Homo sapiens: one gene and its partners. The protein of the gene in region 3 purifies or fractionates together with the protein of the main gene of each other region. This does not show direct contact. Each region holds a gene or a part of one and is shown on either strand. Other genes may lie near its edges.

The links.
Region 1: the proteins of CPNE5 (region 3) and RAD54B purify together in Homo sapiens (affinity purification with mass spectrometry; 2 studies listed by BioGRID and IntAct, with this or other methods). This does not show direct contact.
Region 2: the proteins of CPNE5 (region 3) and FAM114A2 purify together in Homo sapiens (affinity purification with mass spectrometry; 2 studies listed by BioGRID and IntAct, with this or other methods). This does not show direct contact.
Region 4: the proteins of CPNE5 (region 3) and WDHD1 purify together in Homo sapiens (affinity purification with mass spectrometry; 2 studies listed by BioGRID and IntAct, with this or other methods). This does not show direct contact.
Region 5: the proteins of CPNE5 (region 3) and SNX9 purify together in Homo sapiens (affinity purification with mass spectrometry; 2 studies listed by BioGRID and IntAct, with this or other methods). This does not show direct contact.
Region 6: the proteins of CPNE5 (region 3) and NAPG purify together in Homo sapiens (affinity purification with mass spectrometry; 2 studies listed by BioGRID and IntAct, with this or other methods). This does not show direct contact.
Region 7: the proteins of CPNE5 (region 3) and SAE1 purify together in Homo sapiens (affinity purification with mass spectrometry; one large-scale study listed by BioGRID and IntAct). This does not show direct contact.

What each region holds. Positions count from the first base shown.
Region 1 is NC_000008.11:94,402,116-94,405,615, forward strand, and holds part of RAD54B (DNA repair and recombination protein RAD54B), read right to left. Parts: intron 2,125-3,500; coding exon 1,962-2,124; intron 1-1,961. UniProt on the Homo sapiens protein: Involved in DNA repair and mitotic recombination. May play an active role in recombination processes in concert with other members of the RAD52 epistasis group.
Region 2 is NC_000005.10:154,000,911-154,004,410, forward strand, and holds part of FAM114A2 (protein FAM114A2), read right to left. Parts: intron 2,060-3,500; coding exon 1,937-2,059; intron 1,481-1,936; coding exon 1,341-1,480; intron 1-1,340.
Region 3 is NC_000006.12:36,742,860-36,745,444, forward strand, and holds part of CPNE5 (copine-5), read right to left. Parts: coding exon 2,529-2,585; intron 2,292-2,528; coding exon 2,189-2,291; intron 1,668-2,188; coding exon of another isoform or gene 1,518-1,667; exon of another isoform or gene 1,473-1,517; intron 1,467-1,472; coding exon 1,409-1,466; coding exon of another isoform or gene 1,263-1,408; intron 904-1,262; coding exon 830-903; coding exon of another isoform or gene 431-829; exon of another isoform or gene 392-430; intron 1-391. UniProt on the Homo sapiens protein: Probable calcium-dependent phospholipid-binding protein that may play a role in calcium-mediated intracellular processes. Plays a role in dendrite formation by melanocytes.
Region 4 is NC_000014.9:55,017,100-55,020,599, forward strand, and holds part of WDHD1 (WD repeat and HMG-box DNA-binding protein 1), read right to left. Parts: intron 1-3,500. UniProt on the Homo sapiens protein: Core replisome component that acts as a replication initiation factor. Binds directly to the CMG complex and functions as a hub to recruit additional proteins to the replication fork.
Region 5 is NC_000006.12:157,899,746-157,903,245, reverse strand, and holds part of SNX9 (sorting nexin-9), read right to left. Parts: intron 1,349-3,500; coding exon 1,201-1,348; intron 1-1,200. UniProt on the Homo sapiens protein: Involved in endocytosis and intracellular vesicle trafficking, both during interphase and at the end of mitosis. Required for efficient progress through mitosis and cytokinesis. Required for normal formation of the cleavage furrow at the end of mitosis.
Region 6 is NC_000018.10:10,539,527-10,543,026, reverse strand, and holds part of NAPG (gamma-soluble NSF attachment protein), read right to left. Parts: intron 3,266-3,500; coding exon 3,156-3,265; intron 3,040-3,155; coding exon 2,973-3,039; intron 2,699-2,972; coding exon 2,628-2,698; intron 1-2,627. UniProt on the Homo sapiens protein: Required for vesicular transport between the endoplasmic reticulum and the Golgi apparatus.
Region 7 is NC_000019.10:47,137,335-47,140,834, forward strand, and holds part of SAE1 (SUMO-activating enzyme subunit 1), read left to right. Parts: intron 1-3,500. UniProt on the Homo sapiens protein: The heterodimer acts as an E1 ligase for SUMO1, SUMO2, SUMO3, and probably SUMO4. It mediates ATP-dependent activation of SUMO proteins followed by formation of a thioester bond between a SUMO protein and a conserved active site cysteine residue on UBA2/SAE2.

The DNA of each region.
Region 1 (3,500 bases), on a different chromosome or scaffold from region 3:
ACGATTTGTTGTCATATCTGTGATACTATATGTTATTTATGATTTTTCTTCAAATCATTTTAACTTAAATTTGAAAAGAAAACTCTTTCTAAGCATAATTTATCTGTGAAACCAAAAGTTTAATGTGCTATTTTTCTTTTTTTTTTTTTTCCTCTCCAGACGGAGTCTTGCTCTGTCATCCAGGCTGGAGTGCAGTGGCGCTATCTTGGCTCACTGCAACCTCCGCCTCCTGGATTCAAGTGATTCTCCTGCCTCAGCCTCCTGAGTAGCTAGGATTATAGGTGCCTGCCACCACACCCAGCTAATTTTTGTATTTTTAGTAGAGACGGGATTTCACCATGTTAGCCAGGCTAGTCTTGAACTCCTGACCTCAAGTGATCCGCCTGCCTTGGCCTCCGAAAATGCTGGGATTACAGGTGTAAGCCACCATGCCCAGCCTATTTTTCCAATAATTAACTAAATATGCTACTATTCAAATTTTTTTAAAGGCTTGTCCACTTGCCACCTCAAAATGGTCCCATATACTGCCAGTGGAGTAGGGATCACAGTTTGGGAAACACTGTTCTAAGTTCTGAGAGTCTCTGAATGATTTTAAATAAGGGAATGCCATGTTCAGAACTGTTTTTCAGAAAACTCAAGATGGTGGCTTTAAGTAGAATACATTATTTGAGAAGCATCAGAAGCAAATATACAGGTTAGAAGCCATTGCAATAGTCTAGATAAAATATGATATTTTTATGACATCGGTTACTAGAGATGCTGCAGTGGAATGACAGAAAAGATTAGGAAACAATATTTAGGAGGTTAAAATAATTAAAAGTTCAGGTTTGACTAGATTCAGAATGTGAGAGAGAAGAAATCAAAGATGATTCACAGACCAACTGAGATAAGACCTTCGAAAGAAAAAGCAGATTTGGGAGGAAATATGAGTCTAGTTAACAGTTTCTGGAAGACAGTATTCCCTTAACTTGTCATCATTCAAGGAGTTCTTAGAGTTGGGGAGAATTTCATTTCCAACTACCTTTAAAGGACAAATTTTAAAATCAAGGGTCTTGGCATTTAAAAACAAGGCAAAACAAAACCAAAACAAATAAACAAAAAAGACTGGAAGAAATGTTAGCAGGGGCCTTTGATTCTTTTTTTCTCCTGTTTTTTTGTGTCCTCTAAAATATCTTTAAGATACTACTATTCTTTAATCAGAAAATGCAAAAAGGAAGAAGAAACTTTTTTCTATTTTCAGATGTAGAGACAGAAGAAAATCTTTTTCCAAAATTCTCATAACCAGGTGCAGTGGCTCATGCCTGTAATCCTAGCACTTTGGGAGGCTGAGGTGGGTGGATCTCTTGAGGTCAAGAGTTCAAGACCAGCCTGGCCAACATGGTGAAACCCCGTCTCTACTAAAAATACAAAAATTAGCCAGGCATGGTGGAGCACGCCTGTAATCCTAGCTACTCAGGAGGCTGAGATGCAAGAATCACTTGAACTTGGGAGATGGAGATTGCAGTGAGCCAAGATAACGCCATTGCACTCCAGTCTGGGCAACATAGTAAGACTCCGTCTCCAAAAAAAAAAAAAAATTCTTATAACCAGAATTAAAAGCCTCTTTCACTTGCTCTTATGACCCTTTACCACACTAGCAGTCGGTAAGCTTTTATTATACCACATTAAGGTCAATTGCATTTATCTGTTTACTCAAATACTTTAAAAGCCACTTAAAAGTAAGGACCGTGGTCCTGATTCCCATATGCCCACCTCCTAGCAGTATGTTTGGCACGTGGCATCTATCAAGAACCACTTTTGGAATAAATGCACACAGTAAGCACTATTCACCTTTCCTACCAATTGAAATTCATAGTGTACCCTCAGGACTCATTATATTAGGATCTTCTTAGAAAACCATTATTGTGTTACAGGTTAAATCAAAATTCAGATTAGATTAAACAAATGATTTATTTTCCTACCTCATTCCCATTACACATTCATAAAGGAATATGATTCCTTCTTTCTGATGTGGTCGAAGATGATATACAAGGTAAGGATCAATCACTACATCCACAAGAGGGAAACAGTTCTTATTGAATACCCACTGGTGATTCTTATCTGGTCGTGGCATAACGAGGGAATCTTAAAAAATGATAAAAGTACAAGTATTGTAATTTCACTTTTTCAGCAACCAACATTATCTTGTTTTCATTACCCTAAGATAGAAATGTTTGCCATCATTTGTGGCCAAAAAAGTCCAAAATTTAGTCACAGTAATGTTACCCAAGGGCACAAAATTTAAAAAGAAAATCTCATGCCTTACTGATGAACGATTTCATGCAAAGAATTACGAAGAGCCTTCCAAACTTCATATACCCAAAAGTGCTTCGAAAGCAATGAAATTCACTATTGTCTAGTAAGGAATTCAATAAGCCACAACATTGAATAGTTCAGTATTCAGAGCAAAGAGAACTATTTCCAACTGAAAGTACAGGTTGGAATTTTGCCAAGATGCATTTGCCAATGTTCACAGCTTCTCATTCTGAAAAGTCTCCCCAAATTTAACATACAGGCTTTCTATCTTTTCAGTCCTAAACACACTAACAATGATCATTACTCCTATTAATTAGAACTGAGAAAAAATGATAAATTCTCCATTGACTTAGCCACCATTATTTGCTTGAAGTTAATTACTACATTCATGAATGTCAAGTTCATAAAGCTTTTTTTTCTGGGGACAGAGTATCACTCTGTTGCCCAGGGTGGAGTGCAGTGGTGTGATCTCAGCTCACTGCAACCTCCGCCTCCCAGGTTCAAGCAATTCTCGTGCCTCAGCCTCCCAAGTACCTGGGATTACAGGTTCGCGCCACCACACCCGGCTAATTTTTGTATTTTTAACAGAGGCAAGGTTTCACCATGTTAGCCAGGCTGGTCACGAACTCCTGACCTCAAGTGATCTGCCCACCTCAGCCTCCCAAAGTGCTGGGATTAAAGGCATGAGCCACTGCACCCAGCCTCATGAACCTCTTTAAAGCAGCATGAAGTCATCATAGAATAACAATGTAATTCTTCAAAACTATGCTAACACAATTTAAAAGATTTACTAAAATATCACCCAAAAAGGCAAAATCAAATATAACTAGAAGGCAGGTCTCAATTGATAAATCTGAAATTAGATAATAAACCCACCAAAATTATTTTGGGGATATATTTGCATGCCTACATCATGTTTATAAAAATTGAATTAGATAAAAAAAGAAAAAAGAATGAGGAGATGAGAAGAGGAGATAAAAAGAAATAGACTCCAGTAGACTATGTAAATATTCATCAGTGTGGAACTATACTGTCACAGGAATAAGAGTTTAGTCATGTTTACCATTAACAAATACCCAGAGGGTAAGTTTTCTCTGGATCTTCCTAGGTTTCTGAGTAACTGAAATGAACTTTCATCTTTGAGGTCAATTCCTGTTAGGTAGGAGACTAGGAAGTAAAAATGGGAAATGTAGTCCTTGGCTTTC
Region 2 (3,500 bases), on a different chromosome or scaffold from region 3:
TTAGTTATTAGTTACTGGGTGCTAATTTTATGCCAGGCACCATGCTAAGGGATTTACATGTATCATTTCTAATTTTTACAACAACTCCAAAAGTAAGTGATTAGTCCATCTTTAATAATAGTTACCTAAAGTCTTGTGTGTGCCAGATTTTATTTAAAGTCTTTCAAGCAATGGGAACATATCAGTGAACAAGAAAAGTCCCAGTTTTCATGGATTTCAACTTACTTGCTAAATTAAGGGGGAGACTATATACATATACATATATACACATACACACATATGTATACATATACACACATATATATTCATATACATGTAAGTCCTACTTGGTGATATAAGCTAAGACAATAAAGCAGAGTAAAAGGACAGAGAATGGTGGAAGTTGCTATTTTAGACTTTGTGGTGAAGGAAGGCTTTTCTAAAAAGGTGGCATTTGAGTAGACTTGAATTCAGAGAGGGAGTGAACCCCATTTCAAAGAACATTCCAAGTAGCAGAAATAGCCTCTTTTCCGCAGAACAGGCTCCTTTTAGGGTTGTGAGTCTCTCATCCTTAAGGAAGTTCAAGAAGACAAATTAGCCCCCTATTATGGGGTGCTGTAGTGGGATGGTGATGGTGCAAGTAAAGAGGAAGTCTGCAGAAGACTGACAGCCCCTCCCAGTTCTAATAATGGGCACTCTTATACATTTGTTTCCAATGAAAATTCTCATTATTTTAATCAGGACATTTGCTTAGAAACTACTGGGCTTTTTCTTCCCTACCTATGATTATCTATACTATTTTTGAAAAATTTTTGTACAAATCAGCAATAAAATGAGAAAAAAAGAATGGGTTCAGGACACTCAGTCAGACCTGGGGCTAAATCCCAGGCCATACAGCACAGACAGATTACTTAACTCCTCCAGTTTGCATTTCCTCATGATTAAAACTGGACTAATTACTTACTTTTGGAGGTATAAAAATTAGAAATTATACATGCAAATCCCTTAGCATGGCACTTGGAATGGTATAAAATTAGCACTCAATAATAACTATTATTAAGAACTGAGGTTCTTAGAACTCTTCTCTGTTTTCACTTATACCAAATTCCATTCCTATTAAAACTTATCTGTAAAGAAATAGTCTTCAGAGCATGAGTTGGTTAATAAAAAGGGCATATTTATAATATTGATTTATCATGGTTCAATGAAAAGAAAAAAACAACCAAAATGAACAAACCATCTAATATGTGGATGGGTGTGACGTGAATGGTTTCTTGAGAGAGACGTTTATAAAACTTTGGAAACAGGCCAAGAAAACTCCTGCAATTTGCATCATTTAGAGGAATTCTCATTACACTTACTGGGAAAGAGTTTGGCTCCTTTCTATGGCTGTCACTTCCTGCTTCCTGCCATGCAGAACCAATGCAGCTGTTTTGTGGAATAGTTCAATTGAGCAGGCAGTCAGTTCAGCCAGGCTCCGGATTGCAAACGCATGGATATCCTGGATGGAAAAACAAAACAAAGCATAGCAAAACAAAACATTTGGTGGAAAGATACCACCTTACTTCTCTCATACTACAGGATTTGTAGCAGAGACTAATAGTTGCCTTCCAATAAAGAGTGTCTTCTTCTTCCACAGTAGTGATATAATTTTACAGCTGGGCTCCCCTGAAGTCAGGTGTGACGAAGTAACTAAGTTTTGGCCAAATGATTTAGATAACAAGTGTCAGGCAGCAGTTTCTGGGAACCTTCCTCATGACAAAACACACGCGCATCCTTTCTCTCTTTTTTTCTTCACTCCTCCTTTAATCTTATAGTCTGGATCTAAGATGCTACAATCCTAGATCACAAGGTTGAAATTACGGACAGCAGTGTAAAAATAGGAGCCTGGGTCCCTGATTGTGACACATTTCAAATCTACTAAAACAAACAAAAAAGGCTTAGTTGCTTTGGCTACCTCTATTGAATTTTTGTTGACTTGCTCAGTATTTTCTGCTTCCGACTGTTTTTCTCCTTCTTCATTCTCTGCTAATGGCTTGGTCAGAGACTTCCTGATCCATTCGTGGGCGGTATTTCTTGCCTAAATAAGAAAAATATTGGCCATCAACAATTCAATTCAGTTTACCAAAATTACTGTGCACCTACCAGGAACACAATAGCATCCTAGAAGTAAGGGCTCCTGTTCTTACCTGAACGTACCATCTAGCTTTTCAGTCCTTATCCTACTAGTCTCAGCAATACTTATCACTGTGGTCCATCATTCCTTTTCAAAATTCTCTAATTGGTAGTATTTTTTTTTTTTTTTTGAGATGGAATTTCGCTCTTGTTGCCCAGGCTGGAGTGCAATGGCACAATCTTGGCTCACTGCAACCTCTGCCTCCTGGGTCCAAGCGATTCTCCTGCCTTAGCCTCCCGAGTAGCTGGGATTACAGGCGCCCACCACCACGCCCAGCTAATTTTTGTATTTTTAGTAGAGACGGGGTTTCGCCAGGTTGACCAAGCTGGTCTCGAACTCCTGACCTCAGGTGATCCCCCTGCCTCAGCCTCCCAAAGTGCTGGGATTACAGGCATGAGCCACTGCGCCCGGCCTCTAATCAGCTTTTTAAAAAACCAAGGTATAATTTACATAAAGTGCACAAATCTTCAGAGTATGGCTTAAGAAATGTTTTTATGTGTATATGCCTACGAAACCGTGATCAAGATATAGAATATTTCCTCATCCCTAGAAGGTCCCTTCATGTCCCTTCCTAGCCAATACTATTCAAACCATGTCCCCCTCCTCCTGCCCAAAGACAAACCCTCTTCTGCTCACTATAAATAATTTTTCCTAATCTTAAAATGCATAAAAATAGAAATATAAGTTCATTCTAATTTGTGTCTGGCTTAAGCACAACATAATGTCTGTTAGATTTATCCATGTTGCTGCATGTATTAGTTCATTCATATTAACTGCTGTGTAGTATTTCATTTTATATACAGTCATGCACCACATAATGATGTTTGGGTCAACAGCAGACCACATATATAATGGTGGTCCTGTAAGACTGTAATACCATATTTTTACTGTACCTTTTCTATACCATTGTGTTGCAACTGCCTACAGTATTCAGTACTGTAACATGCTGTACAGTTTTGTACAGGAGCAATAGGTTAAACGATATAGCCTAGGTGTGTAACAGGCTACATCAGCTAGGTTTGTGTAAGTACACTCTCTGATATTCGCCCAATGACAAAACTGCCTAATGATGCAGTTCTCATAACATATCCTCATCATTAAGCAATGCATGATTGTATATATCACAATTTATCCATTCTCCTGATAATGAATCTAGTTTTCTTTGGTTTTTGTAACCCCAACTTTCTTCTGTTCTCCTCTGACCTTTATGACCATTTCTCCTCAGTATCTTTTATATATTGATCCTAACTGGCCAGTCTCTTAAACGCCAATATTATTTGGAGGTCTAGCCTTCACTCTTTACTCGTCTCATCCTATTCCCTCTCCATCCATCCTATGCCAGTGG
Region 3 (2,585 bases):
CAGCAGAGCCCTCTCTCTCTGGCCTCTCTTCGTTCCTTTTCTCTCTGGGGCTAATCTGGCCAATGCCTAATGCCAGGCCCATCTGGCTTCTTCCCGGGGGTGCCCTCCATCCTGAGCGCCTCTTCTGGCTCACTCCTGCCTCCAGGCCTTAGCATGGGCCGGTCCCACCTCCCAGGTTGTCTTGCTCTGGTTTCCAGCCCCCTATGTTTGGTCTCCACACCTGGGATACTGGGCCCCAATTTTTAAACCAAGGGGGTATGCAGGATGTCAGCTTTGTCTTCTGCATCTCCTAAGCACTAGGGCCTCCTCTGCAGGGGATGAGTGGGGGAAGTGCTTGCGGAGGGTGCATTCTTCCACGTGAGACTGCATGGGAATTCCCTGAGGACAAAGGTCTTTCTGCTCATTATATTTGCACCGTTCATGGAGATGCTTACATTGATTCAGTTAACCGAGCAATGCCTATTCTTGGAGAAGGCTGCAGCAACACTAAAGACACTGCCTCAGCCTTCAAGGGGCAGAAAAAAACCAGAACGAGGCTGACCACAGAGGCCTGGAGGCTGAGGAAGGGCTGGCAGAGGGTTCTGGCCTCTGGCTGGGCACCCGCAATGTTAGGAGTGTGTCCCAGATGTGACAGAGGGGGGCCCAGCCCAGACCACAGCATGGCCGAGGACTGACTCCTACTCCCTTCGGTGGTGGCTGGGCCACTTTGGGGCTCCCAGTGCCTCCCTTCTGGGCCCTTCACCAGGGAAGCCCCCAAAGGGGGTGTGAGGTCCGCCTGGCTAGAGGGGCTCTTGAATTTCCCATGGGGCAGGCAAGGCCTGGGCTTCACCTGGACGATGTCGCGTTCAGCCAGCTTCCCCCGGGAGGAGATCCGCACGTCGTCGCCATCCAGCTCCACCATGGCTGTGAGGGGAGGAGTGTCATGGGGCGGGGTGAGATTAACGGTGGACCCCTGGCCCTAGCAGGAGAGTGGACTTGTCCTTTCATCCCAGGCCAATCCAGGGCCGAGACCACTGGCCCATGCCCCGTGTTAGAGATGAGGAAACTGAGGCCAGGGGCCAGGAGGAGCCCGATCAGGTGAGCCTCTGACTTTGAGCCCAGTGCTTTGGTTCACCACCCTCCCCAGACTCCCAGGGCTGGAGGAGAAAGAAGTGACTTGGGGCCTCCTCCCCACAGCCTTGGGATGTGGGTGTGGGTGCACACCCAGACCTGACACACCCTTCCCTGAGCAAACAAATGCGTCCCACACCCTGCACACTCACCCAGACACACACGCCCAGGCGGGAGCTCTCACTCTTTTGGGAGGGGTCATTCCCAGGGGACCACAGCCTCTGGGGAAACATCTGGGGTGGGGGCAGGGTTGCGTGGCTAGGGAAGGAAAGGAGGGGAAGGCAGCAGCTGGACTCACCGTCGAACTCTGCCTGGCCCACGCCGACGATAATGATGGACATGGGGAGCTTGGCAGCCTGGGAGACAGCATGGGGGGCAGGGAAAGGTTGGACCCAATTGGGACCCAGTTAAAAGGAAGGAGAAATCAGGGGTAGGACAGGAAGGGGTGGGCAGGAAAGAAATGGGAGAGTGAACATGGAGAGACAGAGAAACACAGAAAAGGGGGTAGGGAGAGGGAGGGCACTCAGAGATAAAGAGCAAAGGAAACCAGGCTGCGCCTGGAGGAGAGAGGGAGGGTGGCAGGGGGAATGGGTCATAGGTCTGCTTTGGTGAGTCACCCCCATCCCCTCTTACAGGGAGACCACCGGCTTGGGGAGCCATGTTCCTGAGCTTCCCCAACTCTGAGCCTCCCCTCCCACTCCTTTGACCTGGCCAGGCTGGCCTGGGAAAGGGGGAAGCGGTCCTAGAGATGGGTTAATGAGGGAGTCATTGGGGTCTGGAGGGAGTAGACCAGAGCGTGACTAAGAGGTGGGAACAGAGCTCACCAGCCAGATCTCTCATGATCTGGGCACCCCTTCCACCCGCTAGAATCCACTATCCAGCACCGGACTCTGCAGCCAGAGGCCAGAAGGTGGATGAGGGCAGTGGGGCCCAGTGAGGCAGGGAAATGAGAAGCCACGCCCAAGTCATCTCCAAGCATTTCCCTAAGGTCAAGGAGGTAGGCACATCCCCAGGGTTCCCCTAACGGGGAGGAAGACACTCCTCAAACCGCCTCCCCCACCGCACACTCCTTGCTTACGTTGACAATGGCCTCCTTGGTCTGCGCCATGTCCGAGATGACCCCATCAGTAATGATGAGCAGCACCGAGTACTGGGAGCCATCCTGCACGGCCGCTGCATTCCTGGGTGGGGCAGGTGTGGGCTCAGGTCTGTCTGCGGGACCTCTGGGCATGTTCCCCCCTAAACAAGGACCCTGAACACTTTGGAGGGTGACAGCTCTTGGGGGAATCTCTTCAGGGTCAGGGCTCCCTGAAAGGCAAGTGCGTGGGAAGAGAAACCCCCTCCCACCACCCAGAGGCAGAGCTGGTGTGGAAACAGAGGCCTTGTGAGTGCCTGGAGGCGGTGGCAGCGGCACTCACCTGGCCACGTGGGTGACCACGGGGGCAAAGTTGGTGGGGCCGTACAGCTGCACAGTG
Region 4 (3,500 bases), on a different chromosome or scaffold from region 3:
ATATCTGACATCAGTGGGGATTCTATCTAAATTTATTTGAAAAGTTTAACACTAATGATAAAATTCTTAATTTTTACAGTAATACAAATACAAACTTTGGCAGGAAATAGCGTTCAGCAGTCCTGCGAAAGAAGTGCTTTTAGAGTAGTCTAAACATTCTTCTAAATGGTTTTATCCTTTATTGTATCAAATAACTACATATTAATTTTATTGTTTTCTACAGTGCTGTAGGAAAAATCAATATTCTTTTTTTTTCTTTTTGAAACAGGGCCTTGCTCTGTTGCTCAGGCTGGAGTGCAGTGGCACCATCTCGGGTCACTGCAACCTCCACTTCCCAGGTTCAAGTGATTCTCCTGCCTCAGCCTCCCAAGTAGCTAGTATTACAGGCACGCACCACCCACACCTGGCTAAATTTCGTATTTTCATAGAGATGGGGTTTCACCATGTTGGCCAGCCTGGTCTCGAACTCTTGACCTCAAGTGATACACCTACCTCAGCTTTCCAAAGTGCTGGAATTACAGACGTAAGCCACTGCACCCAGCCAGAAAAATCAATGTTCTTACTATATTAGGAAATCTGTGAAACACAAAAGTACTTGAATTTGGAATTACAATTCATGATTCTATCCAAATGAGCTGCAAGATAACACACCAACAAAAAAGAAGCCATACTTGTCAAATTTTCAGATTTTATTTATATCTAGAATTGCTGAACAACAGAATTTTTGAAAAAAACATGTTTTGTTTCTGTTTTTGTTGCCCAGGCTGGAGTGCAGTGGCCCTACCACGGCTCACTGCAGGCTTGACCTGGGCTCAAGCAATCCTCCCACCTCAGCTGCACACAAATCAATGTGATATACAGAAAAACTACTAGACCTCCTGGCCTCAAGCAATCCTCCCACCTCAGCAGCGCACAAACCGATGTTAATTAAATACACAAAAAATACTAGCATTGCAGGACATACTTTCTCCCTCTGCTTGGAGTGATTGGGTTTTTAAAATCTTTAAGCCTTTGAAGAGCGAGCGACTCTGTAAAACAACCTAAGTGTCCTACTGTAATAATGGTATTATTATTATTAGAAACAAGTCCTCTAAATCTTAGTTGCATTTAGTTGAAAACAGACATCTTTAATCAAAGCATTAAACTTAAGCTTTTGAAGCTTTTAGTGAAATGCAATTCATGAAAACAAAACTTATGCACAGGAAGACACTGAAATTTATCCCTACAAAAGCAAATAAGAATTGAACAAATTGTACATGAAAAGCTGAAATGGTGAATGATTTCATTTTAAAATTCTGTAACTGTACTTTGGAATATCTTGACTTGTGGGAAGAATATTTTGATAGAACTCCTATTTTTAATTGTATTAATTTATGTTCTGTGCCAGAATGAAATAAAAGAGTAGGCTTAAAATCTGTGAAACATCCAAAAGAATCATAGACAACTTGATGAATTTTGTCCTTAAAAACAGTGAAGACCCTATTATTGAAGAAGTGTACCCTGAATGGAGATAAAAAGACAGAACCTATAAAAATACTGAGGCTGAAGTATTTACCCATTTCAATTAAAACAAATTCTTAAAAATTATGACTCTCCCAGCTAGTAGAATTTGCTCTGAGCCTGCCAAGTACCTTAGAACCTAACATTTTTCTCATTAAAAAATATTATAGTCTAGGCCAGGCATGGTGGCTCACGCCTGTAATCCCAGCACTTTGGGAGGCGAGACCAGCCTGACCAACAATGGAGAAACCCCATCTCTACTAAAAATACTAAATTATCCAGGCATGGTGGCGCATGCCTGTAATCCCAGCTACTTGGGAGGCTGAGGCAGGAGAATTGCTTGAACCTGGGAGGCAGAGGTTACAGTGGGCCGAGATGGTGCCATTGCACTCCAGCCTGGGCAACAAGAGTGAAACTCTGACTCAAACAAATAAAAAAAAGAAAAGAATTGAAGATTTAACTTCAAATTTATTCAGCATAAAATGCAACTCTAAACAAGGCTACAGCTAATTTTTTATGAGAAAAATTAAAATAACACTGTATTAAAAATATATTTTTCAGAAAAATATCAGCAATACCATGGGACAGACAGGCTAAGAAACTGATTAAAGCACATAAATATGTACCAGAAATGATTATCTTACATATGTTAACATTTAGATCATATGTTTAATGTTTGGATAATCAATGTAAATAAATATTTTTATTTTTTTCTTAGGTAAACTGGGTAAGTTGTTAATTTACATATTCCTAGAAAATTATACCTTTGTTTCAAATTTTCAAAACTATTGGCATAAGGGTGTCAATGTATTCACGTATTTTGAAGCCTATATTGTACCTTTTTTATCTCTAATATTATTTTATTTGTGCCTTCTCTTTTTTGATTCATGACTCTTGCTAAAGCATTGTTCTACTAGGTTCTACCCCCAATAAACCAGATTTTAGTTATAAGATGTATGGGATTTACTTTAAAATAATAAAGAGTAAGGCGGGGTGTGGTGGCTCATGCCTGTAACCCCAGCACTTTGGGAGGCCAAGGCTGGTGGATCAATTGAGGTCAGGAGTTCAAGACTAGCCTGGCCAACATGACGAAACCTTGTCTCTACTAAAAATACAAAAATTAGCCAGCTGTTGCGGAGGGCATCTGTGATCCCAGCTACTTGGGAGGCTGAGGAGAGAGAATCACTTGAACCCAGGAGGCAGAGGTTACAGTGAGCCGAGATCGTGCCACTGCACTCCAGCCTGGGCGACAGAGCTAGACTCCATCTCAACAAAAAAGAAATCCGCTATCAGTGTCTGGGCATGAAGATTAATTATATCAAGACTTCATCAGCTTTATGACATAACCTCAAGGAGTCAATGATTACCAACGCATTTCTTACTACCTCAACTCTATCCTCAGAGAGCAACATTCCTTCCCTAATCTGACCACCTCTTCTTGACTCTTAATCATTGAGTCTCATGAGGTTCATGGTGAGGCACAAGCAAAATCTCTATATACTCAGCTTTCTTTCTGGTCATTCTTCTGGGGTCACTGCTTCCTCTTCAGCCCTCTTAAGTAGTGACTGATTACTTTCTATACCCCACTGGTACTAGAGACAAAATCAAAACCACGTAGTGTCAACCTCACTAATTCAAATTCCTCCCCTTCCATTATCTTGAATCCACTTCAAGGTTTTCATTCTTACCATTCCATAAAACTTGCCAATGGCCTCCACATTGCTAAATCTAATGGTGAATTCTCAGTCTTCAACCTGACTCACCAGGAGCATTTGACAGAGTCTATTATTTCCTGTTCCTCAAACACTTCATTTGGCTTCTAAACATCCTTCTTGTCTTTCAGTTCTCTACTTTTCTAGCTACTCTTTCTTAGTCTCCTTAGCTGGATCCTCTTTAACTTGATCTCTAAATATTTTGGAGTATCCTTGAACCTCTTTTCTTACCTATATTTACTCCTTCCCTAGGTGACTTCATCCAAGTTCACAGTAATAAATATTATG
Region 5 (3,500 bases), about 120 Mb from region 3:
GATTAACATTCTTTGATATCTGCCTTGAATCATGGAATTGGAATATTGGGAAAAAGTATTAGTAATTTCAAAAAATAAACTAAACATAACTGCTGGAAGGAGTACTTGAAAATTCTGATGGAAGTCATAAATTACTAATATATCTCCTTCAAGCTACACTGGCATAGACTACAGCCTTATTTAGGTCTCTCCAAAGAATCCTACAGTGGTCACTGGTGCCCACATGCTTTCCTGTTAAGTAGGGTATCTACAAGTACTGTTAAAAACTTTTTTTTTTTGGCTAGGTGTGGTGGCTCAAGCCTGTAATCCCAGCACTTTGGGAGGTAGAGGCGGGCGGATCACTTGAGACCAGGAGCTTGAGACCAGCCTGGCCAACGTGGTAAAACCTCGTCTCTACTAAAAATACAAAAATTAGCTGGGCGCGGTGGCACATGTTTGTAATCCCAGCTACTCAGGTGGCTGAGGCACGAGAATTGCTTGAACCCGGGACGTTGGGGTTGCAGTGAACCAAGATCGCACCACTGCACTTCAGCCTGGGTGACAGAGCGAGACGCCTGTCTCAAAACAAAAAAATAAAACACAACACTTTTTTTTTTGTTTTAAATCTAAGAGAAACCTAAGCTAACACAAAGCTCCGGACCACGTTTTTAGGCACAGGAGCTGAAACACGTGCTTTGGCGCCTGAGGGCCTGGCTTCCTGACTGGAACACTCGATGCGTCTCTCTGGGCATCAGTTTGCCTGCAGTAAAACAGGGGTTTTATGTACCACAAAGGGATATGAGGGCTACATGCGAATGATACAAACCTCTCTGCACAATGCCTGGCACATGGCAAGTGATTAACAAAACAGTAAAACATTTAAAAGAGAGTTGTTATTATTATTCTTTTTAGCTTTCCTGTGACATTAGCAATGAAACCTTAATATGTCATAAATTGATAAAGCTAGAAGTAATGAAAACAGTTTGGGAAATCATTAAATAAAATAAATATTTCACTTATTAACCTTGTAAATCAAAAATCCTTTTTTTTTTTTAAGTAAGCTTCTCAGTTAAGATCCAAATAAAAATAACTGAATCATATCCAAAACTTAGGAGATCACTGGAAAGGGAAAAGGCCAGCTGCCTCTTGGTAGGGTATATACTTTGTATTAATGTATACTTCTACCACGGCCCTGGTTCCCTGGCTCCCCTTTAAACTTACTTGTTAAGGGGAATTTTCATGGATGAGGAACTAGCACGACTGTTTCCTCGCTGAGCGCCGCCTGCATCAGCTGACTCTGAATCCTTAAAGTAGGAAGAGGATTTGGGCCCATCCCAGTCTTCATCCCAGTCATCATCATCACCAGTTGCTAGAGGTGAAAATGGAAGATCATCAGTTAAAAAAAAAAAAAAGACCAAAATAAAAATGAAATTACTTAATTTTCTGACAGTAACTACCTACTGGGCAAATCAATTTTTTTTTGATGGAGAAAAGGGTATAGTATAGGAGTATAATATGGATGTTAAGAGTAAAGGCTGTGTAGTCAATTTTAAGCCTTGAATTACAGATTCTTTTAGTGCAAAAGACAAATCAGAAGCAACTTAAAGAGGGCTATCAGATTACTTTTAAATTTTTGACACGGGCACCGAGATGACACAGTGGAGAAAGGGCAGTCTCTTTAGTAAGTCGTGCTGGGAAAACCAGGTATCTACATGCAAAAGAATAAAACTGGACCTTGTCTTACACCACACACAAAAATCAACTTAAAATAGATTACAGACCTAAATGGAAGACCTGAAACCACACAACTCCTAGAAGGAAACACAGGGGAAAAGCTCCTTGGCGCTGGCCTTGGCAAATGTTTTTTTGAGTATTACACCAAAAGCACAGGGAACAAAGTCAAAAATAACAGGCGGGACTACATGGAACTAAAAAGCTTCTGAACAGCAAAGGAAACAATCAAAATGAAAAGGTAGCCTATGGGCTGGTGTAGGGAGACCCCCTGAAACTATTGCTATGGAATAAAAGATGAAATGCTCCTGATTATTGTAAATACAAAATTGCATGCAGGATTGTGTAAAGACAGTGCCAGGTGGGACTGCCAGAATGAGCCAACAGCATGTGATGTGCTTCCCCCTGCAGAGAGCCTATGAATGGATGTGCAGTCAGGGAGGTTTCACATCACCAAGATTCCTATCCCAGAAAAGCAGATATTCATAGCTCTGGGAATGGAAAGTGACCCTTGTAAAGAGCCTATAAACAGACACATGGGGGCACCGTCCATATGGATAAGATAGGGCTATAAACGCCCTCATCTTGCCAGGGCTCTTCTGGGCCTCTTTAGGGTTAAGGCATACTCCCTTCTGAGAATTTCTGGTCTAACAGGTTGTCTAGCTTCACGTCCTGTTTCTACGGATTGTTTGTAACCAGCTTTTGCTGCAACTGTTACTGCTGATTAATATCTTGCTAATCATAGGTTATGGAAAGACTGTGTTTCTGTTTTAAGGCTCTGTCAGAAATTACTGATGCATACACTATATTGTAAATTCTTATCTCTGTATACTGTACTTCTGCATACAGATGTTATGTTAAAGAATTACTTCATCCCCATGTGACCATCTCACCTCATAATCAAATGACCCTAAATCCCTCACTAACCTACCCCCGCCCTCACTAAACTTAATAATAAATGCTGGTATATCCAGTGCATTGTTGGCACTGCAGGACCAGAAGGCAGTGACCCCCCCGGACCCAGCTTTCGCTATCTTGTGTGTGTCTATTATTTCTCAACGGGCCGATCCGCCTGGGAACACAAAGAGAACCCCGTTGCATTGCGGGCTGCTGGCCAGATCCCGCAATAGGCTGGGAGAAAATATTTGCGAGCCATGTATCTGATAACCTGTTAATATTCAAAACATATAATGAACTCGCACAATTCAATAGCAAATAAAAAAAGCTCAATTAAAAAATGGACAAAGGACCCAAATTGACATTTTTCCAAAGAAGACCAAAAAATGGCCAAGAGGTATATGAAAATGCACTCAACATCACACACAAAGAAAAATACCACATGGATCTTATTTACATGTGGAACTTTTAACAGGTCTTTAAAAAAATCTAAAAAACTTATAGAAGCAGAAAGTAGAAAGGTGGTTACCAGGGGCAGGGAGACGGGGAACTAGGGAGATGCAGGTCAAAGGTACAAAGTTGCAGTCATGTAGGATAAGTCTAGAGATCTCATGTACAGCATGAGGACTACAGTTAATGATATTGCATTATATTTGGGAAACCTGCTGAGGGAGATTTTAGGTGCTCTTACCACACACACACCCACAGGCACGCACTTGCACATATACACGCGCACACACACACACTTAGGTAATCATGTGAGGTGAGGGATATGTTAAGCGCTTGGCTGTAGTAATGATTTCAGTATATACATGTATATTACAACATCACGCTGTATACCTCAAATATAGATAATTTTTTTTTTGAGACGGAGCCTCGCTTTGTTGGCCAGG
Region 6 (3,500 bases), on a different chromosome or scaffold from region 3:
TTTTTAGTAGAGAAGGAGTTTCACCATTTGGCCAAGGCTAATCTTGAACTTCTGACCTCAGGTGATCTGCCTGCCTCAGCCTCCCAAAGTGTTGTGATTACAGGCATGAGCCACTGCACCCAGCCTGGAAAGGCCTTTTCTAAAAAGGAACAAGGGCACTGGCCTTGGACTGACTTTTCCCAGATGTAATCTAAATGAAACTACGAATCACTTCTGAATTTTGACTCTCCAAAACTGAAGGAGAAGCAAGAGATTAATATATTAAATAGATTCTTTGCTACACTAACATAGAAAGTATTAAATTAGGACATCTTATGGACTCATGTTAATGTAAAAACATAAGTGCACTAACTAAATATAACAAACATAAAACTTTAGACTCCATGCCACACAGTCTATTAGTAGATGTTGCTTGTGTGAAGCATAAAATTACCACCTGTTTAGTTCTTTTAGGCAACAGATGCAATCAAATAATAATCTAAGCACATAGTTAATATTTTCAATTATCACATAAATCATCTCAATAATGTCTCCATCACTATAAACACTGCATGTTTTTTCTTATCCTGCACTATTTAAGTTCCCAATAGAAGTACCATGACAGTAGACTTAATTTTTTCATACCAAGATACCCAGCAACACTTTTCAAAAGATCAAATTCCTTCATGTTCCTGCACAAATTTAAATTAATTTTTATATTGTTAATACACTTCAAAAATATATTTCCATAACATTTTTGTTGAGCACAGTAGAAAGTACCATTTTAAAATACATTTTTCCTAAAAAGAAAAAAAAAAAACCAATAAAACAAAGTCACGAATAAAAGCCCTGGATTTATAAATGTGCCCTTTGAGCACATCTACGCAGCATTCTCACTTCTGCTGCTCACTCAACTAGCATTCTCCCCTCTGCTGAGGCTTTGAAGAATTTAACACAGTAATTGCTTTAAAACAATGGCTTTCATCAGATGTGTCCAAACCGACTGGCAACACTGGTAATGTTTTGAGGATGATGGTGGCCCCCATCCCTAGTGGAGCTTTCTAAAGGAATATGCACAGGCAGCTGGAAAACGTTCCTCATCTGACCTCCCCCGAAAAGATCCTGGCCTCTCTCCTTTCCTGCTACTCCCTCTACAACACAGCTTTAGATAATCTATACCTTGAGAAACAAAAGGAAAGAAGATGTGGAAAGCAGAAATACTTCAGGGGAGCTGATGCAGTCTGGACTTTCACACAGGGCTGTCCTTAACTTCTGCCCCTTCCTGCAACTTCACTTCCTTCACCTTCCATGGGGTCTTATAGTAAGGGGCTTAGCGCTCTAGAAAGGCACTGGGAGTCTTGTCGGGGAGCATCAGGAGATGAGAACAGAAGAGAAAGGAGGTAAACTATGCTAAAACTTGCCTCCTAGCTGCCCTGAAAAGAATGAAGGACACTGTTTCTAAGACATGGGGCCCCTGCTCACAAGTCAGAACCTTGGTATCACCTCACAGTTCAGCTATTTTGCCACAGCCATAACGCCATCACCAAGAACAGCTCTGCTGCTGTAACAAACACTTTCAGAAACTAAAGTGAACCATTTTTAAGTTGGGATTTGTCAGAGTTAGCATTTCATTCACTGATTTCTGGGAAGCGACGAGTAAGTAATAAGATGAATAAAGATAATGACCCCGGACTGACATTTAAATTAAACTTTCCTTCATGATTAAAGTCCTAATTTAAAAACAAAATGAAATTTCTATTCCATTTAGACAAAAAAATACTCCTCAGTGAAGGAAGGTCCTATAAACAAATTAATCTAAATGAGATTGTTTAATAGTTAATTCTAGATTAATTTATTCTCATATTACTCTAGACCGGTTTAAATTGTATTTCAGAATCTGCAGTCTTCATGAAGAAAAAATTTAATTCAGTCTCAGATAGGATAGATTCATCAGTCATTTCTATTTTGATTCCTTGACATATTAAATGGATCTTGGGTGTTTTCTGTTACTGGGAAGCTTTGGACAAATTTCAATTAAGATATCTGCAGACTTACAATCTCCTAGAGATGTTTATCTTAAATATTATTGAGACAGAATTTTATTAATGAAAAAAATTGTTTACTAAAAGTAAACTGAGATAAAGTAAAAAAACAAAAGGAAATCCCAATAGGATTTTAGCTTTCTGAGGTTCAACTATTTGTGCTTCAGGTCATATGTGAAACGATAACAAGGTAAATATTCTAATAATGACACTATTTGTCAAGAACCTGTCAGTTTTCATGGGTGAGTGTTTATGCATCTTTGTCATTTATCCTAATATTCTTATTTTTCCTTGAGAGAGATATTATAATCCAACCAAGTAACAGATGAAGGAAACTGTTCCCTTTCATGTTGCTGAGCCAGGGTTCAACCAATAAAAGCACAGTGCATGATAAATTTGGGCATTACACTTTCAAAAAACAGCAGATCTTTTAATATCTAATTCAGTGTGCCTACTGTCTAGTAAATGTTAATATTCTATTGTGTGGCCTGGTGTGTCTACAGCTTATACCAAAAAATTAACAAGCTATCCCCCAAATTACTTTCCAGTTCCAAATGTGGATTCAAAGTATAGTTAAACACACAGCAATAGTTTTTAAAGACATACCTACGTCCTCGTACTAGTAGTCTGGAGGCTTTTCCTAGTAATTCAACTGCCTGTCGTAAGCGTTCTTCATTCTGAAGGAATCAAAGAAAAACAAGTGTTGGCTGCTTTAATGTTGAAATGTTTTTATCCCCTAATATTTATTTTGTAAAGAAGTAATGGCACTGGATCAAGGGGGGAACACGAAAGCTGCTAGTTCATTTCACTACTCTCTAACAGAAAAGAAATAGCGTGCAACTGTGAGCAGGGAAAAGTTTTAAAAGTAGCCACTGCACTTCTCTATTTTCCTATATATTATTAATCTAAACATTCTAAGTAATTAAAGAAAAAAATAAGATTCAAACTTACTTCAAACACATTAGCTGTCTGTTGATATAACTGTACAGCCTTCTCTGGATCAACATTTTCTATAAGCCTGAATCAGACAAGAAAACATGTCTTATATGAGAAATGGAAAACTTGTTTTTCAGGGACCTCTTTAAAACAAAAAGACAAGACTTCTATGCAGAGACTTGTCCATCTCACACTCACTTTCCAGCTCGCTCCAAAGCCATGGCTGCTGTGTCTGGGGTGCCGTTTTCTAGATACATCATGCTGGCCTTCTCAATTAGCTGAACGGCCTCTGGTAGTTTCTGCATCTCCTTTGGGCAAAGGATACAGTAGACAGGTCAGCAAATGCATCAATTAAAGAAAAACAGAGTTAACAATCTGAAATGCAATTATTTTTTATTTTAAGTTCTGGGACACATGTGCAGAATGTGCAGGTTTGTTACATAGGTATACATGTCCCATGGTGGTTTGCTATACCTATCAACCCATCATCTAGGTTTTAAGCCCCGCATGCATTAGGTATTTGTCCTAGTGCTCTCCCTCCCC
Region 7 (3,500 bases), on a different chromosome or scaffold from region 3:
CCAAGGTCACACTATCGCACTCCAGCCTGGGTGACAAGAGCGAAACTCTGTCTCAAAAATAAATAAATAAAATAAAATAAAGTAAAGAAGCAGCTTCCTAGAGCAGATTTGGTTGCTTAAATTGAGGCCAAGTTTCTGGAGTTTTTATTGATAGTTGACAATTACAACTAAAATTTTTTTTTCTCGCTCTGTTACCCAGGCTGGAGTGCAGTGACGCAGTGACGTGATCTTCAGCTCACTGCAACCTCCACCTCCCGGGTTCAAGGGATTCTCCCGCCTCAGCCCCCAAGTAGCTGGGACCACAGGCGTATGCCATATCACTCAGCTAATTTTGTGTGTGCATGGCGTATGCCGTAACACTCAGCTGATTGTGTGTGTGTGTGTGTGTGTGTGTTGTTTTTTTTTTTTTTTTGTGATGGACTCTCACTCTGTCGCCCAGGCTGGAGTGCAGTGGCACAATCTTGGCTCACTGCAACCTCCGCCTCCTGAGTTCAAGCGATTCTCCTGCCTTAGCCTCTGGAGTAGCTCGGATTACAGGCGCGTGCCACCACACCTGGCTGATTTTTATATTTTTAGTAGAGACGGGGTTTTACCATGTTGGCCAGGCTGGTCTCAAACTCCTCACTTCAAGTGATCTGCCCACCTCGGCCTCCCAAAGTGCTGGGATTACAGGCGTGAGCCACTACACCCGGCCTATGTGTGTGTATTTTATTTTTTTATTTTTTTGAGACGGAATTTCTCTCTTGTTGCCCAGGCTGGAGTGCAATGGCGTGATCTAGACTCACTGCAACCTCTGCCTCCCGGGTTCAGGCAATTCTCCTGCCTCAGCCTCCTAAGTAGCTGGGATTACAGGCGCCTGCTACCGCGCCCAGCTAATGTTTGTATTTTTAGTAGAGACCAGGTTTCGCCATGTTGGCCAGGGTGGTCTTGAACTCCTGACCTCAGGTGATCTACCCGCCTCAGCCTCCTTAAGTGCTGGGATTACAGGCATGAGCCACTGCGCCTGGCCAGAAGTTACCTTCTTTGTGCCTGTTTTCTCAGCTGCAAAAGAGGGGTAACAAAGTGCCAGCCCATTAGATTGTCATGGGAATTAAATGACATAATACATACAAAGAGCTTAGTAGAACAGTGCTTGGCACATAGTAAGTGTTAGATAAATGTTGGCCATTATTATTTTATTATGTACCAGATTTCTATAATTCTGCTGATGGACACAGGTTTGTTTTGGTGTGTCTATTAATTCACAGCCATTTGAGTAACAGTATGTCCTAAATGCCAAGGAAGTTACTGGTTCTAGTGATACAGTGGTTTCTGGAGTTTACATTCTAATGGAGGAGGGGGCAGTAAACATATAAACAAGTAGTGTAGCTTAGCACAGTGGTGTGTGGCTGTGATCCCAGCTACTGGGGAGGCTGAGGTTGGAGGATCACTTGAGCCAGGCAATTGAGACTAGCTTGGGCAACTTAGTGAGGCCCCATTTCAATCAAAACAGTGGGCAACACAGACCCCATCTTAATCAAAACAAAAACAAGTAGCATAATTCGAGATAGAAGAGGATGTGGACCTATTTTAAATTAGGTGGCCAGTATGGACTTCTCTAAGGAGGTGACAATTGAGCTGAGACCTAAAGAATGTGTCCCTTAAGAAGTTGAGGGAAGAAGCAATGGGAAGCACTAATGCCAAGGTCCTAAGGTGGGAGCAAGGATGGGAGCAAGGATGATGTTCTCTAGGATCAGCCTCCCGAGTAGCTGGGACTACAGGCACGTGCCACCACGCCTGGCTAATTTTTGTATTTTGAGTAGAGATGGAGTTTCACCATATTGGCCAGGCTGGTCTCGAACTCCTGACCTCAAGTGATCCGACCGCCTCGGCTAATTTTGTGTATTTTTAGTAGAGACGGGGTTTCACCGTGTTAGCCACGATGGTCTCCATCTCCTGAACTCATGGTCCTCCCACCTTGGCCTCCCAAAGTGCTGGGATTACAGGCGTGAGTCGCCGCGCCTGGCACACCCAGCTAATTTTTTTTTGTTTTGTACAGATGGAGTCTTACTTTGTTGCCCAGGCTGGTTTCGAACTCATGGGCTCAAGTGATCCTCATGCCTTGCCCTCCTAAAGTGCTGGGATTACAGGTGTGACCCACTGCGTCCAGCCTGCTGTAGTTTTGTCGGAGAGAAACGATGGTGGCTCAGACTAGAGTGGTGTTTGTGGAACTTGAGGGAAGTAGATGGACAATGCTGCTGTGAATGTGTATCTTTTTTTTTTTTTTTTTTTGAGACAGAGTCTCACTCTTGTCACCCAGGCTGGAGTGCAGTGGCGCGATCTCGGCTCACTGCAAGCTACACCTTCCGGGTTCACACCATTCTCCTGTCTCAGCCTCCCGAGTAGCTGGGACTACAGGCACCCGCCACCACTCCCGGCCAATTTTTTTTTTTTTTTTTTTGTATTTTTAGTAGAAACGGGGTTTTACCATGTTAGCCAGGATGATCTCAATCTCCTGACCTCGTGATCTGCCCGCCTTGGCCTCCCAAAGTGTTGGGATTATAGGCGTGAGGCACCGTGCCCTGCTGAATGTGTATCATTTTTGTGCCCACTTGGGTATTTCTTTTTTTTTTTTTTTTTTTGAGACGGAGTCTCGCTCTTTCGTCCAGGCTGAAGTGCAATGGTGCGGTCTCGGCTCACTGCAACCTCCGCCTCCCGGGTTCAAGCGATTCTCCTGCCTCAGCTTCCCGAGTAGCTGAGATTACAGGCGCCTGCCACCACTCCCGGCTAATTTTTTTTTTTTTTCTTTTTGAAACAGACCCTTGTTCTGTTGCCCAGGATGGAATGCAGTGGCGCCATCTCGGCTCACTGCAAACTCCACCTCCCGGGTTCACGCCATTCTCTTGCCTTAGCCTCCCGAGTAGCTGGGACTACAGGCGCCCGCCACCATGCCCAGCTAATTTTTTATATTTTTAGTAGAGATAGGGTTTCACCTTGTTAGCCAGGATGGTCTCGGTCTTCTGACCTCGTGATCTGCCTGTCTCGGCCTCCCAAAGTGCTGGGATTACAGGTGTGAGCCACCGTGCCCAGCCCACGCCCGGCTAATTTTTGTAATTTTAGTAGAGATGGGGTTTCACCATGTTGGCCAGGCTGGTCTCGAACTCCTGACTTCAGGTGATCTACCCACCTTGGCCTCCCAAAGTGATGGGATTTGTAAACCCAGCACTTTGAGGGAGGCAGAGGCAGGAAGATTGCTTGAGCCCAGGAGCTGGAGATGAGCCTGGGCAACATAGTGAGACCCTGTGTCTACAAAAAAAAAAAAAAACCCATAAATCAGCCAGGTGCAGTGGTGTGCACCTATAGTCCCAGGACTCAATAGGCCGAGGTGGCGGGATCACTTGAACCTGGGAGGTTGAGGCTGCAGCGAGCCCTGATCTTGCCACTGCCCTTCAATCTGGGTTCACAGAATGAGACCCTGTTTCAATAAAACAAAACGTAAACATGGTATTTGGTGTTGATGG